Linked DNA regions of Homo sapiens: region 2 is linked to region 1. Evidence: fine-mapped expression QTL. A gene starts in region 1. The other region holds a variant in brackets. All regions are shown on one strand. Distances are between the middles of the regions.

Region 1 (8,305 bases):
AAGACTTTTTCAGATCTGCAATGCAGTCTGAGTTTCTCTCTGCCCAATCCTACTTTCTCCTCTTTTGTCTCTCACAGGTCCCCCTGCCATCCAATAAACATTCACACTCCTAACTCCACCTTAGCATTTGCTCACTAGAGGACCTGAACTGACACACCTATAGTTAGCACCACCCTTCCCCGCAACAGAGCTCTAAGCCCCAGCCTCCAGGACCAGGAATAGCCATTTCAGAACTTGTCCTTGAGCTTCATTTCCAAATCTGTTATGTCAGGATGATTCTTTCTCCATCACCTGCTCTCCCGTGAACTTGGTTTTCTTCCTAGATGCAGGTGTAGCACCAACAGAAGATCCCCCACAATCCCACACCCAAGCAGTGCTAGGCTTCCCTGCAGAGGACAGCCCATGTCTAAGACACAGTCACGTCCCCAATCCCCAGATGAGTGCGGGTGTTGAGACGTGAAGGATGAATGAATGATATTCACTGCATGCTGTTATGGAAGGGAGGAAGGGAATATTTCTTCTTTAAATGCCTGCCCAGGCCTCTCCTGCCCTCCACCAAATTACAGCCTGGAGTTAAGGTGCATCTTCTCACAGGAAGAACTGGCCCCAAAAGAAGGTGCACCCTGGGGAGGTGGTGATCACTCCATGTTGCCAGAGCTACCAGCCCCGCTCTATGGATAAAGACCAAAAGTGTAGGTCCCTTCAACTCAGAAGCCCGGAGAAAGCAAATGTTGCCTGCATCCAGACAGCAACGTGGGTGGCTCTGGCAGGGGAATCCTAGAGCAGTGACTCCCCCAGCCAGGTGGTTTCCTCACCATCTCCTAGCCTGGCCTCCAGCGTACAGGTCAAGGCCACTCTGTGGCCCCCCCAGCCCCCTTCCCACTCCACCACAGAACCTCACCACCATGGAGCCCCTGAGCTGGAAGCCTTGAAGGCAGTGAGTGCACGATTCTGAGAGGAGGCGAGGGCGGCACACAGCGCATGGATGAGACAGGCAGGAAGCCAGGCAGGCTCAGAATGAGTAACTGCAGATTCTCTTTGTGCCATGCCTGTTGTCACGGGGGATGGCAAGTGACTCCACTTCTCTCTCTTTCCCGCCACCTCCCGTGTCCTTGGCACCCATGTGATTCTGACATCCAGAAGGGATATGAGATGGTGCTAGAGACTAGGGACAGGTTTTAGGGATCCCAGAGGGGAGACTTCAGAACAGACCCCCCCAGGGAGGAATCCATGCAAGAAGGACATGGGGGAACAGAGAGTAGGAGGCGACTATGGCTCTCCTCCTCAAGCCTGGACTGGGAAGGCAAGGCAGACTCCAGAGGGGCTTAGGCTTTGGACAGGGTGGGGAGATTGGGACCACAGGCTTCCCACTCCCTCAGGTAGTCCGTCGGCCCCCCCTCTGCTTCTGACATCCCTCTTCCTCCAAGAAGCCTTCCCAGATCAACTGGGTGCACAAAAGGATGGCTTCCTCAGCAGATTCTACAGGACTCCCCAAGAGTGGGCCCACGGTTGACCCCCTTCCCCCCAGTGCTTCAGAACACAGGACAGGACATTCGGGAGCAATTAGTTGAAACACAGTCACATTTAATGTTGGTTGAATTTTTTAGGTTTTTGTTTGGTTTTGCTATTTTCTTTCTGCTCTTTTCATTTCTGAATATGTTTTGTGCCCTTTGATAGGTAAGGAAGGGTGGATCCCCCAGGAGAACAATTCTGAAAGAACAAAGAAGTGATGTTTATTCCGAAGAATCTGCAAGGAAACAATTATTTCTGATTCACCTACTCCCTTCCGGGGAGCAAGGCCTGCAAAGGCATCAGATGCCTTCCCAGCCACTCACTGCCTCCAACCTGGCCATCCAGCCCTCCAACAGAGGAGAGGAAGGGTAGTGTGGGCCCCCCTCCAGAGCCAGGGGAAGGCAACCCATCCCCACTGGTAGCCAGTCCCTCTCCCTCCCTCCCCACCCTGCCCACCAGCCATTCACTGGTGGGTCACATGGCAAAGTGAGGTCTGCCTCTCCAATCCTCACACCCATCATATACCCTCAAGTGTCCAAGAACCTTGTCCTCCAGGAGAGCAGGAGAACTTCAACAACCCTGGGGGCATGACACATTAATGATAGGATTTCAGCATCCTGCAGCTGGCTAGGTGCTGTGTGTGTATGTATGTGTTGAGGAGTGAGGGCTGAGGATTCATGACACCCCAAACCCACAGGTTTGCTCTTCACATCTAGGGCTCCTAGGACACCATGCCAGCACAAGTAACTTCCCAGGAAAAAGACACAATTCCACTGTCCTGCCAGGGAACTGAGACCCGAGACGGGGTACACAGGGTCATAAGGAGAGACAAAGACCCCTGATTTCTGAGCTAACAGCAGCCGTCAGGGGTGTGGATAGCTGAGGAGATGGCTGAGGATGATTCAAACACTCCCGCCATTGGGAGATCGAGTACAAACCCAAGAAAGGCTAGGACAGAGGCATCTCCACAGCTCCCAAATCTAAGGAAAGGCCTGTGTCCAGCCTCACTGATTATATCGGGAAGGAGGTAGAAATTGCAGGGAGTACAGTAGCTCCCCAAGTTCCCCTCATGGCAAGGGGATGCTGCCCATCCACCTCTGTGCCCCCAGTGCACAGCACAGGGCCTGGCACACAGAAAGAGATTAATAAATGTGCATGGAAGAAAGGAGGGAGGGGCTCCATGGTGGCGAGGTTCCCTTTAATGAAGGGAAGGAGGAGAGGGAGGAAAGGGAAAAAGAGCAAGTGCAGGGGATGGAATGCTGGAAGGGAGGAAGAAAGAAGAGAAAGAAGAGAGAGTGGAAAGAAAGTGTAAGTACGCCCTGAAGAAAGGGCCAGGGCACTCATCCCTTCCCGGCTTTCCCCCACTCCCCTCAAGCCCACCCCATGGCAGCATCCCAACGTTCCCTCTCTGTAGGGAGGGAAGCCCTGGTGGGTCCTCAGGGAGCTCCTGCGCGCCTGCTGTTCAGCCAAAGCCTAGCGCGGGACCTCCTTCAGGTAGCCGCACATTCTGCTCAGGGCTCTGGGACCCGCTGCCCTCTCCGCCTCTCCACTGAACTCCGCCTCTCCTTCTGTCACACGGCTCCGCCAGCCACTCTATCCTGCCGCCGCGACCACATCTCCAGCCTCGATTGTGCAGGCTCGAGCCCGTAGAAAGAGGGCTAGCAGCCACCTGCGCTTGGTCCACAAGAAGACGCGCTCCCAGGGCGCAGAGCTGGTGACCCCGCTCCCCATGCCAGGGACGAATAAACGAGAAAAGGGGCTGACCCGGTGTCACCCAGCGGCCGAGCAGCCGCCCCTTGGAAGCTCAGCACCAAAGGCAGGCGGCCAGGGTCCTGGCCCCTCTCTGGACCCCAGTATCCCCAGCTGTAAAATAGGGAATGCAGGAGGAGGACGACGTCTGTGGATCGTTTTAGGTCAGCTGCGGAGTCGGCCTGCGGGCTGGGAGCAGACCTCGCTCCCCACGCGAGGGCGCTGGCACTTCAGCCCAGCCTCCCTGGGGAGGTGCCCTGGACGAGACCCGCGAGGGTGCGGACACCTCATCCTCCCTGGAGCAGGTCTCCCGAGGCTTGAAGGGCCAGGGCACCCAACAGGTGCTGAGCGCGCCCCACCAGGTCACCCGGGAGCAGGGAACACCAAGGAACCCAGAGTCGGGCCTCTTTCGAGCCCTCGCTTCCTCTCGCCTGGCTTCTTCGGCGCGAAGGATGAATTGGGGTTGTTGAAAATTGATCAAACAACCCGATCTCTGTCAGCGCCTGGACACTTGCTGGGCCCCAGCTCGCAGCCTGGGAAGATAAGTGGCACTTCCTGTCTCGTAATCGGATTTGCGCGCACGAACCCTCGGAGACGCACAGGTGGGAAATGGGGAGGCTGGCGGGGAGGCCTCCTGGAGGAGGTGGCTCCGAGGGTAGACATGAGGAGCGCCCTGGGATGGGGCTGAGGGTGGATACAGAGGTGGGAGCTTGCGAAGGTCGTGAGCTAAGCATGGAAGGATGGAATGTGTTCGGGTCTCGAGATTCCCGGGTGATGAGCCCGGAGGGGCGAAGGCCTATAAATGTCTCACGACGGAAGACCAAGGTGTGGGATTGGCAAAGAGAGAGCAGAGCTTCCTCACTGGCAGGGGCTCCCCAGCCCCGCCCCATACCTGCGCGGCGGCCCCGCCTCCACCCATCCATTGGCTAGATCCGCCGCCCGTCAGACGAGCCCCCGGGGCCCGCCCCCAGCCCTGAGCTGCGCCTCTTAGCTCTGGGGCCACAGCGCCAGCGCCACTCTGCCAGGCTCCCGGCCATCGCCCGCCTGGTGCGCCGCCCGCCAGCTCTTTGCCCGCGCGGGGCCGCCCGCCGCGGGCTCAGGGCAGACCATGCGCCCGCCAAGTCCGCTGCCCGCCCGCTGGCTATGCGTGCTGGCAGGCGCCCTCGCCTGGGCCCTTGGGCCGGCGGTGAGTGTTCGCCCGGCCGCCCAGAGTCCCGGCAGCCTGGGGGTTGCGGAGGGCGGGGGAGGTGGGGGATGGCGGGAGCCGGGCCGTCTGTGCGCGTGTCTGTGTAAGAGGAATAGGGGACATCAAGCATCTCGACTCGCCTCCTCCCACCGCTCCAGACCGAACCTAGACGCGAGGGCTGGGATATTGGTCGTGCCCAGTCCCTCCCAGCGCAGCCCGGAGCAGGCACAGCATCAGTGGAGGGGCAGCGGGGAAGAGTGGGCCCCAGACTTGCCTTCCTTGTCGTGGTTGTGGGTGCGCAGCGGGGTGGGGCGGCCAGTGGGTGCAGAGTCAGGTACTGCGGCCGATTGAGATGGAAGGTTTGGTACACCGTAGGTGAGAGGGAGGATGTGAGGGGCCGTTCTTGTGTGCTGTGACCGTCTGGAGGTGCCTGTGGGCTGTCAGCATCAGAACCAGTGCTGGGGGCCCCAGGACTTGAGAAGGGGTTCTTGGGATCAGGTGAGTGACAGGCACATCCCTCCGTGTGCCCTCCCACTGAGCAAAGCAAAAAGGTACCAGACCCCAAGGTGGAAGCTGGTGGGCAGTGAGGGGCTAAGGGTGGTGGTTAACAGGAGGGGCCAGGCCTGTACATGGAGAGAGCTGAGCAGGGAGCCAATGCCAACAAGCAGTGGCCTCCCTCTTCCTCCCACTTCTGCTTCCTCTCAACGTGGGTATGTGTATGCCCTTGATACATGTGTACTCGTGTGCCCCATGTGTGGGTGTGATATGTGTTCCTGTGGATGGCTTACCTGGGCTGGGAGGCAGATGCTGATTGAGGCAGGAGATGCATGGATCATCTCACTCTAGAACAGGGGAGACCTCAGCACTCATTGAGTCTACTGAAGCCCATTTTACAGATGGGCAAAGCGAGGTCCAGAGACACAAGAGCCACATCTGTCTCCCACCAGTTAGACCTAGACAAAGGTTGATTTTCTCCCTACCCCAGACTTTGAGTAATCTAGAGTTGCTGCTTAGGCAGGGCCTTAAATGCCCACTCCAAGTTGGCTGGGGGAGGGTGAGGAATCTTGATTATCTAGTTCATTCTCTCCCATGGTCACTTCCCTTACCATCACCTCCACCAGAGCAGGTATCTCTGTGTTTCCATCTAGCGGATGTCTTGAGCACCCTGGGAATGGGAAGCTCATTGCCTGTCCTAGGAGCGGACCTCTGACAATTGGCAGGAGCCTCACCTCCACCCATGACAGCCATGAGACCCACCTCCTGAGCACTCAAAATCTTACCAAGCTCTGTCCCAGAGGCCACAGCTCTGGCACAACTTGCATGAAGCCTTCAGGCCTCTCCAACCACCATCTGGCCCTCCCAACCCCAGGTTCAAGCCACTCAAACTCTTCTTGGATGAACCGGGGATCTTGGGACCACTGTTGTCACCCCATTCCTCCATCCCGAGAAGCTTCTGAGCCCAGGGGCAGAGTGGATTCAGAGAGGTCTCCTTTCACACCAGGCCACTTCTACTTCACACTTCCTGAGACAGCCCAAATCTGTCTCCTCCCTCCAATGCCTACCCTCCCCCTGTCTTTCCACATCTTATTCGTTTAGTGCCCAACTCTATCTCCTCCTCCAGACAGCCTTCCCTGATTGCTCCAGCCAACTCAACCCTTCCCCCTCTAACCCCACCCTTCAGCCCTACCCACCTCCCAGGCTGGGCTATTCTGGCCATCCTATAAGGTCAGGGGCTGGGGTCTCTTACATCCCCATGTTTCTTACAGCCCAGTGCAGGGGCTGGGTCCACAGAGAGAGGAGAAGGGACTCAACCAGGACTGGGTGAGGGCAGGCTGGAGTGAGGGGTCCCTATTTCCCTCCCTGATTCTCCCTCCTCCCCACCAGCTACCAATCGCTCCCTCATGGAATGGGGCAAACCTGCTCTAGCCGGACTCGGTGTGACGGCGGGGTGGGGGGGCGGGGTGACAGGAGTTATCAGAGTCATAAAATGGCAGCTGCAAAGTTCAAGTTGAAGGCCCAAGGCCTTATCACTCCTGTTTATGGTGCCCTGACTTCAGCCTGGGAAGGAGAAATCTCTGAAAAGGGAGGCAAAAAAAAAAAAAAAAAAAAAAAAGGAAAGAAAACCTCCAGTGTCTCAGAGGAGGAAGTCTGCCCCAAGGCCACCTGTCAAGCCTTCCACTGCCCCTGCCCCCCGGACAGCAGGCACAGGGACTCCTCATCCAGAAGCAGAGCTGCTCAGGGCAATGCCCAGTACGAGGCTGGGGGAGGAGGGTCACAGGCCTCCTCGTGGGAAATTCTCTATCTGGTGTGGGAGACCAGACCCAGTGACTTAGGAGAAAGAGTCCAGGTGGATGTGGGGTACAGCCTCCTAGAACTGGGGCAGGGGTTGCTGAGAGGAACAGTCAGGGGAGGCTCCTGGAAGAAGCAGGACTGTGCCCTAAAGAGTTTGACCAGATGGGCCAATCTTTCACCCTAAACCATAAAACAGCCTCTGTTGACAGGACCAATGGGCCTGCCCCCAGAAGGAGGAGTCCCAGGGACTGGGAGAGGCTCGACTTCTCCCCAACTCTGAGGTTGATCAGTGGCCACAAGCTCCTGAAGGCCTTGCCTTGCCACCGGCATCCTGCTGCCCCTGCCACCTGCCTCTAGCCTCTCCAGAGGCGGACCACAGCTGCCCAGGCCCTCTTGGCCCCCAGCAGGCCACCCTGTGAGCTTTGGGAAACATGGCTGCATCTGGGTCAGGCCTCCTCCTCAAGTGAGGTTACCACCTCAGTTAGGCCTGGCCAGGGCTCCCAGGGTACCATGCTGGAAAAGCGAGCCCTTTTGGAAGTTTCTACCCTCCTGTCCTGGTGCACTAAGACTATGCCTTCTCTGAGGTTTGTGGGACATCCTTGGGGAGCCCAGGCTGGAAACAGGAGAGCTGGTCCTCACTCCACTCCATGGCAATGGCTTGACCTTGGGAACATCTTTAACTTTTGTGGAAGGGCCTCGGGTTCCTCACCACAAAAGGGAAGGTGAGAGGCCTCCGCCCAGTGTGCAGGAGAAGTGGGAGGAGAGGGTTAGGCTGGAGCCAACTCTGCCTCCTGAGTGGGACATAATCTACCCCTGGAGCACCAGGGTCTCTGTGAAAGGGGGTTTGTCTTTCAAGCAGGACTTCTGTGAGCTTTGAAGGAGGTAAAGGTTGTGAAGGTGGCTATGTGAACTGTGTGACTGTCATCCCTTCTCCTACGTCCCCAGCTTGGGAGCCCTGTGCAAACTTATACAGCTATTTCTGGCCCCCATCTTCCCACAGGTTCCCAGGGCAGCAGGAGTCCTGGGGAATGGGGGACGTTTCCTCATTAGGTGGCCAAAACATTTTGGGGGTAAGGCTCCAGGCCTAGGTAGGCAATGGGGCCTCTCAGAGCAGATGGGCCTTCACAACGTGGGCAGCCTCAGTGGAAATCCAACATGGGCCATGAGACCAGGGTAGGGGCTCTAACCTGCCACGTGCCACAACTCTGCCATTGCTGGGCCCTTCACTGTGGCTCCTTTGGCCATGGAGCAGGGAATGGGGCCTGGGGACTATGTAAAGCCTAGTCCCTTTCTTAAATCCTTCTGTTCAACCCCCAGATTCTGCCTTCCCCTCTCTGACTTCTTAACACAAAATGATTTTTATTGTACCCATTGAAAATGTCAGTATGTACTCTCTCACATAACTTAGAAGTATTTCCTTTTTTTCTTTTTTTTCTTTTTGAGATGGAGTCTTGCTCTGTCACCCAGGCTGGAGTGTGGTGGTGTGATCTTGGCTCACTGCAACCTCCAGCTTCCAGGTTTAAGCGATTCTTCTGGCTCAGCCTCCCTAGGAGCTGAGATTACAGG
Region 2 (8,330 bases), 150 kb before region 1:
ACAAGGACTCAGAAGGTCTAGGAGGAAATGAATGTTCTAAAGTGTGAGGGAATATGGACATAGTTGCTCACAGCAAGGTTCACACATGGGTCTTAGTTTGAGCTCCCCCAGAAGCTGACCCTCAGATAAGGATATGAGTGCAAGTAGTTTATTTGGGAAGTGGAAGGAACATGGGTAGGTGAAGAAGAAAGATATTTGAGCAAGGGAAGGCAGCTAGTAAGTGTGTGCTGTCACACCAGCTACTGCAATATGGAACTGGTGCTTAAGCTTAAGAGGAAACTCTGGGAAACAGTGAAAGGTAACAAAGCTGGGGAATTCACACCTGCCAGTCATGGCTTAAGGACTGGCCCAGATGGTAATTCCCTGGTTCTTCCCACTCCTTCCCTCCTGCAGGCAACAAAGATGGCTGATGGCAGTCAGGCTGACACCATGCGCTGAAATAGCAAGGGTCTCTGATGGGATATGGGTGAACACTTTCAGCTGCCTCAGGATGGTCTTATCAATGAGTCTGGTGACAGCAGAAGTGTTCATTCTGCCTAATTCTCCATCACCACCCATCAGCGTCCAGGTTTATGGCGAGACCACCCTGCATCCTGCTCTGCAGTCCTCAGACCAACACCGACTGGGGGGACAGTTGTCATTTTTGGCTGCCTATTCCCCATGGCCCTCACTACAGCACTGAGTTTTTCTATCACAAAATGATTTCTCCGTGTAGGGAGAAAGAAGCCTTCTTAGAGTCTCTGTCTCTTGGTGATCTGAAATATCCATCTCCATGCGATCAAAAGGCATCCAAGTCTGGGCACAGAGAGAAGAAGCATTCCTAATTCCAGAAGTTCCTGAGAGAACAGGGCCAGCTTTCTGGCAGAACAGAGATGTGAACTCAATGTCCTTTGGGAAATTAGCTTTAGTTCTGTACCAAGAGCCTATAATTATACTGACCAGGCTAGGGTACTTGAAATGATGATTAAGGCATGAATGAAAAATAAAAGATCCCTTTGTTTTTATGCTCATTATGCCTCTTTTTGATGACTATGCAAAAAAAAAAAATGCCTTTCAAACAATTAGCTTAATTAGCAGATTGTATTTTCATTCCCAGCTCCAAGCCAAGTGCCCAGCAGTTGATCATAGCTGGGTAAGGATGCACTGGCCCTGCCTACCTTCCTCCTCCCACCCACCTCCATGTTCCAGAACATGGCATTTGGGGTTGATCTTTACCTTGGCCCATCTCCCAGCAGCCCTTGGGCTGAGTTCATTGCAGTCTGTGGGCCCAGCTCTGCCTGGACAGCCCTGGCTCCTCAAGACAGGAGTCTGTTTGAGGGAGGGAAGGAATAGGTGGAAACCAAGCTTCCTAGTCTGATAATGCAATCCAGTGTAATCTGGCCCCAGCCTACATCCCAGGTCCACACACCCTTCCTAGAAGCCATCCCCACTCTCTGGCTCCATGTCTCTGGTCTGCTGTCCCTTCTCCCACCCTACTTGTGCATCCCAGATTCTACCTGTGCCTCAGGGTGGCTTGCCTCCTCTATGAGGTCTTTCTTGTTTCTTTTAAGGCCTTTTGCCTGTACTTCTCCCATTATCCTCACCACTTTAAAATGGATTCAATTAAAAAGGCAATAGATGAGCTTATTCTTAATAGAAAACATTAAGAAATGAATAATTATCTAGAAAAAAGTAGGAACTCCTCCACCACTGCCTCCCTACTCCCCACCCCTTCCCCGAGGAAATCACTGGGAACAGTCGACCACACAATGAATGTTATGCAGTGCTTGCTTCTTTCGTTTAATAGAATACATCTTGGACATTTTCCATATCCAGGACTTACAGGTCAGCTTAACTCTTTTCAGTGGTTGCTGAACTGCCCCATCTGTTACCAGCCCACTATGGATGGTCAAGGGAATTTGTAACTAATGGAGTTAGAGTGCAGGTGTTTGGGAATGAATTTACTCCTTTTCCTCCTCCTCCTTTCTTCTTCTTCACCCTCCTCCTCTTCCTCCTTACCTTCCTCCTCTTGTTCCTCACACTCCTCCTCCTCCTTTTCTCCCTCCTCCTTCTCTCCCACCTCCTCCTTTTCATCCTTTATACAAATTAGAGGTCTTAAGTCCATTCCTAAAATGTCATTCTCACTCCTTTGCATTCTGACTTTCTTCTCACTCTAAAATATATATGCATACAAATATTCTAATTCTGAAATATTTTTAAAATATGGACAAGTGTAGAGAATCATATAAAACATCTACATGCACATTTAACAAGCAGTAATATTTTGAAATACAGGCATATCTCATTTTATTGAGCTTTGCTTTATTTTGCTTTTCAAATACTGTGTTTTTCACAAATTGAAGGTTTCCAGCAACTCTGTGCCAAGAAAGTCTATTGGTCTCATTTTTCCAACAGCATGTGCTCACTTTGTGTCTCTATGTCACATTTTGGTAATTCTCACAATATTTCAAACTTTTTATTATTATATGTGTTATGATGATTTATGATCAGTGATCTCTGAAGTTACTATTGTAATTGTTTAGGGGCACCATGAACCACACCCATAGAAGACAGTGAACTTAACAAATGTTGTCTGTGTTCTGACTGCTCCACCAACCAGCCATTCTCCAATCTTTCTCTCCTCTGGCCTCCCTATTCCCTGATTCACAACAATATTGAAATGAGACCAATTAATAACCCTACTATAGCTTGCAAGTGTTCAAATGAAAGGAAGAGTTGCACATCTCTCACTTTAAATAAAAAGCTAGAAATGATTAAGCTTAGTGAGGAAGGCATGTTCCTCCTCATCCTGAAATAGGCTGAAAGCTAGTCCCCTTATGTCAAATGGTTAACCAAGCTGTGAAAGCAAAGGAAAAATTATTGAAGAATATTATAAATGTTACTCCAGTAAACACATATTATAAGAAAGGGAAATAGCTTTATTGTTGATATGGGGAAAGTTTTAGTGGTATGGGTAGAAGATCAAACCAGCCACAATATTTCTTTAAGCCAAAACCTGATCCAGAGCAAGGCCATAACTCTCTTTGATTCTGTGAAGGCTGAGAGAGGTGAGGAAGCTGCAGAAGAAAACTTTGAAGTTAGCAGAGGTTGGTCCATACAGTTTGAGGAAAGAAGCCATCTTCATAACATAAAAGTGCAAGGTGAAGCAGCAAGTGCTGATGGAGAAGCTGCAGCAAGAGATC[C/T]AGAAGATCTAGCTAAGATCATTGATGAAGGCATCTACACTAAAGAACAGATTTTCAGTGTAGACCAAACAGCCTTATATTGGAAGAAGATGCCATCTAGGACATTCATAGCTGGAGAGGAGAAGTCAATGTCTGTCTTCAAAACTTCAAAAGACAGGTTGACTCTCTTGTTAAGAGCTAATGCAGCTGGTGTCTTTAAGTTGAAGCCAATGCTCATGACCATTCTGAAAATGCTAGGGGCCATCAGAATTATTCCAAATCTACTCTGCCTGTGCTCTATAAATGAACCAACAAAGCCTGACAGCACATCTGTTTGCAGCATGGTTTACTGAATATTTTAAACCAACTATTGAAACTACTGCTCAGAAAAAAAGAATTCCTGTCAAAATATTACTGCTCATTGACAATACACCTAGACACTCAAGAGCTCTGATGGAGATTTACAAGGAGATTAATGTTTTTTTCATACCTGCTAACACAACATCCATTCTGAAGCTCATGAAATAGTGAAATGAGTAATTTTGACTTTCAAATTCTATTATTTCAGAAATACATTTCATAAGGATATAGCTGCCATAAATAGTAATTCCTCTGATGGATTTGGGTAAAATAAATTGAAAACCTTCTGGAAAACATTCACCATTCTAGATGTCATTAAGAACTTTCACAATTTGGCCAGGCACGGTGGCTCAGGCCTGTACTCCCAGCAATTTTGGAGGCCAAGGCGGGCAGATCACCTGAGGTTGGGAATTTAAGATCAGACTGACTAACATGGAGAAACCCCATCTCTACTAAAAATACAAAATTAGCTGTTCATGGCGGTGCATGCCTGTAATCCCAGCTACTCAGGAGGCTGAAGCAGGAGAATTGCTTGAACCCGGGAAGCAGAGGTTGCGGTGAGCCGAGATCATGCCATTGCACTCCAGCCTGGGTGACAAGATTGAAACTCCGTCTCAAAAAAAAAAAAAAAAAATTCACGATTTAAGGGAGGAGGTCAAAATATCAACATTAGCAGGAGTTTGGAAGAAGTTGATTTTAGCTGTCAAGGATGACTTATAGAAGTTCAAGAATTCAGTGGAGGAAGTCACTGCAGGTGTGGCGGAAATAGCAAGAGAACTAGATTTAGAAGTGGAGCCTGAAGATGAGACTGAATTGCTGCATTCTCATGATCAAACTTGAGTGGATGAGGAGTTGCTTCTTGTGAATGAGCAAAGAAAGTGGTTTCTTGAGATGGAATCTACTCCTGGTGAAGATGCTGTGTACACTGTTGAAATGACAACGAAGGATTTAGAATATTACATATTCTTAGTTGATAAATCAGCAGCAGGGTTTGAGAGGATTGACTCCAATTTTGAAAGAAGTTCTGCTATGGTTAGAGGGCTATCAAACAACATTGTATGCTACAGAGAAATCTTTCGTGAAAGAGTCAATCAATGAGGCAAACTTCATTGTTGTCTTATATTAAGAAATTGCTACAGCCACCCCAACTTTTGGCAACCACCAACTGATCAGTCAGCAGCCATCAACATCAGGGCAACACCCTCCATTAGCAAAAAGATGACTTGCTGAAGGGTCAGATGATCATTAGCATTTTCTCAGCAATAAAGCATTTTTAAATTAAGCCATGTACATTTTTTAGACATACTGTCATTGTATACTTAATAAATTACAATATAGTGTAAATGTAACATTTACATGCATTGGGAAACCAAAAAATTTGTACAATTCATTTTGTTCTGACACCTGCAATATCTCCATGATGCCTGTATTTCTTCAAATACTAAAAAAAAGAAAAGAGAATGGAAACAAAAATCAGTTGCAAGTAAAGCTAAATTCTCTCCCTGTGCCTCATTTCTCTCCTCCTGACATTTTTGAAGTACTCACCATTCTAATGCTGTATATTTTTTTCATCCTTGTTTTCATAGTTTGCTACTATGGTTGGGGGGACAAAATATGAAGATATTTAAGAGCATGTATGGAGCATGGCACCAACCAGAGTGATAACCAACCATATACCACTCAGCTTACCCAGCATTGACCCCTGAATGTTAGTTCTGTTCATAAGTAGTCTTTCATTAACAATGCATTGTTTTGTGAGTCTTCAAGAGATATTAGCACACTCTATTTCCTTTTGCAACTTGTCTTTCACTCAACATTATGCTTGGAGATTGCTTCCTGTAAATACTGATAAGTCTAGCTCACTCTCGATAATATCATGCTTTCTTGATGGGGAGAGGAAGGAAGTTATGTCCAGGAACCTGGGTGTCATACAAACAGAGCCTGTCCTAACAGGGCCATAGCTGGGCCTTGAATCTCACACAAGTATATGAGATGCTTTTGTGAGGATTGGGCCAAAAAAGGCTGTCATGCCTATTGCTTCATTTACTTGCATAATTTGAGGTTTCATAAAATTTGGGAATGCCTATTGTGAGAAACAAACTCACTTGTCCAAATTTAAAGAATGGACTCAGAGACCCGGAGAACAGCGAAAGTGAGACTTTTAAGGACCATCTTGCAAGATCAGGTGTCTGATGGGCAGGCACACCCAGCACAGTCACAACAAACAATTTACCCCCTAGTGCACAGGTTCCTCCCCCAGTTCCTCATAGGCTGACTACTATGGGGTCACAATCTTCCCACACGTCACCTATCAGTTGCTGGGCTGGGGCTTAGGTGTTTTCTTTGGGGTTGTCTTGCTGCATTTTGTTGCAGCCCACAATGCGTTGCATTCCTAGTCAGCTCAGGGGCTCTTTAAGTATTTGACTTATGACTTAAGTAGCTGGGCAGGCTGATGAGAATAGACAAAGTGAGCTATCTTGCAGGCTAGTAAACTTTCATCTTAGACTAAACTTTTTTGGTTTGGGTGGGGGCAACTAACGGGGTCGGGGGTGGTGCAGGGAGGTGCGCGACAAGCAGGCATTGACTATCCAAGCAGGGGCCTAGTGTATCCTGTTTTTTTCTGTAGTTTGCTAACCTAAACCGATTCAAGGCACTTTGTCTTGGACCACTGTATACGTTATTTCCTTCACTATCAATATGTAAATGTTATATTTGCTGGGAGGAAAACAAAAAATTGGGAACAGCAGGACTAGGGAAGCATTTTGCTATTTTGTAAATGGACACAGGGTCCTCTCTTGAATATCTATTGACAGTCCTAAGAGAAGAAACACCATGTCCCAGTACAGGTGGGAAGGCTGGGATGGAGAAGGGAGGCCCTCTTGTGCTGCCTAGGTACCAATCCAATAGCACCAATAAGCAAAGGGCCCAAAAAGGAAGACCTGGGGAAATGAGAATGCCTTGTATTAATTAGTAGAGGGGGTCTGGATGCCAAAGAGAATGGGTTATAGAGTTAAAGGGTTGGAATCTGCGATCTCATTTGCCTAAGTTATCAGAGGGTAAGAAATTCAGGCAGAAAGCACAGGTCTAGTCCAGGGAAAACCTGTAAGCAGGAGAAGTCTGGATTTAGGGCCTCCCACAAGGATATCAATGCATCTTTTCCTCCCTGCCCCCTTTCCCACCATCAAAATCATTACTCAGGAAAGAGGCTGATATTAGTCATTTATACTCTCTACAAGTAAATCTCAGGGGTATTTGCATCCTTCTTCCTAAGTGTGGCATGAGATATTCTGTTCCTGCTGGATCAGGTCCCTGCACTGGGGCAAATAATGGCAGGCAAGAGAGTACACTTCCTGCAGAGGAGAACTTGTCGACATCTAACAAAGCTACAGACTCATTTACTCTTTAGCCAACCTAAGCAATCCCACTTCCAGAAATTCACCTTTAAGATACACGTCCACGGATACAAAGCAACATGTGCAGGAGGTTTTTTATAGTGACATTAGTTATAATAGCAAAAATTAGAAATAATCCAAATGTCCATCCACAGGGGATTTGATAGAGTGACCTACTTGTTCCAGTTTTAAAACTGGAAGTCCCGTGTGCAGAAAATTCCCTCAGTCTCAGACAAACTTTGTCCCATTCATCTTTAAGCATTTCTGGACCAACCAGACTTATGAGATTCCTCTTGTATTTCCCTGGAATCAGCTATTTCCCAAAAGAGCCATCATTCATTTGAGTGGGGAAGGATACTGTTTTATTTTTATTTTTTGAGATGGAGTCTCGCTCTGTTGCCCAGGCTGGAGTGCATGGCACGATCTCGGCTCACTGCAACCTCCACCTCCTGGGTTCAAGCAATTCTCCTGCCTCAGCTCCCTGAGTAACTGGGATTACAGGTGCCCACCACCACGCTCAGCTAATTTTTGTATTTTTAGTAGAGATGGGGTTTTGCCATGTTGGCGAGGCTGGTCTCAAACTCCTGGCTTCAAGTGATCTGCCCACCTTGGCTTCCCAAATTGCTGGGATTATAGCCGTGAGCCACCAGTGGCACCCGGTCAGTACTGTTATTAGAAGCTAAGATTTGGGGACTTGGTATACTGAGGTGTTATTGCTTCTAGGGCCTTTCAGTTGACAGAGAAAAAATAAAAATATACGTATTATATATAATATATACAATTATGAGTTTATATTTACTCCAATTCAAATGTAACATTTCAGGTTTTCATTAAATCTATTGTATTTTGTATATAAATCGCTTTTTTCTTACTCTAAAAATCTTTTGATTCTTAATACTATTAGAATATATTTACTTATTTTCTTTATTCTCTAATATACATAGATAGAATAGTTTCAGGAATTTACTTCTTTGCTTTAATCTTACAATATACTTAAAAATTTTCCAAAGTTAAAAACCACTATTACCAGTACTAATACAATTACAAAGTAACCTTAAATATTTATATGCAGTTTTTTTTTTACTCTTGGAATATTTTTCACAGAGGACTAGAACCAGAGAACTGTATCAGAGATGTCTGAATTTTTTTCTTTTCTCGTCATATCTGTGTTACTAATTTGGTACGCAATTAGGTTCCTTTAGCCAAGCCTGATATGTTTTCAATTTTCAAGTTTGTCTTTTCTTTCTTTTTGATTTAATTTATTTTGTGAATATGTAAAATTTGAATGCAAAGTCAAAATTATGTGAAAAGCCATATTCAGAGAAGTCTCATTTCCACTCGTATCCCCTCCTTCACTTTTCCCATTCCACCTCCCATGAGCAACAATTTTTATTAGTTTCTAGTTTATCTTTCCAGT

What was found. PIP is the estimated chance that this variant, and not a neighbour inherited with it, causes the effect. A credible set is the group of variants that fine-mapping cannot tell apart.
Region 2: its variant is the best candidate, but not a certain one, in a credible set for the expression of VIPR1 in whole blood (TOPMed, PIP 0.57).

The regions. Positions count from the first base shown.
Region 1 is chr3:42,498,367-42,506,671 of GRCh38, forward strand. It overlaps VIPR1 (vasoactive intestinal peptide receptor 1), which reads left to right and starts at 4,277. Exons shown (of 13, transcript NM_004624.4): 1 at 4,277-4,447. The coding sequence starts at 4,370. RefSeq lists an enhancer at 2,775-3,348 and silencers at 3,876-3,975, 4,036-4,535.
Region 2 is chr3:42,352,796-42,361,125 of GRCh38, forward strand. It overlaps a transcript of LYZL4 not described here. Among named protein-coding and RNA genes, the nearest start is that of LYZL4, 54 kb to the right of the region's middle. The variant C/T (reference allele first, on the strand shown) is at 3,183.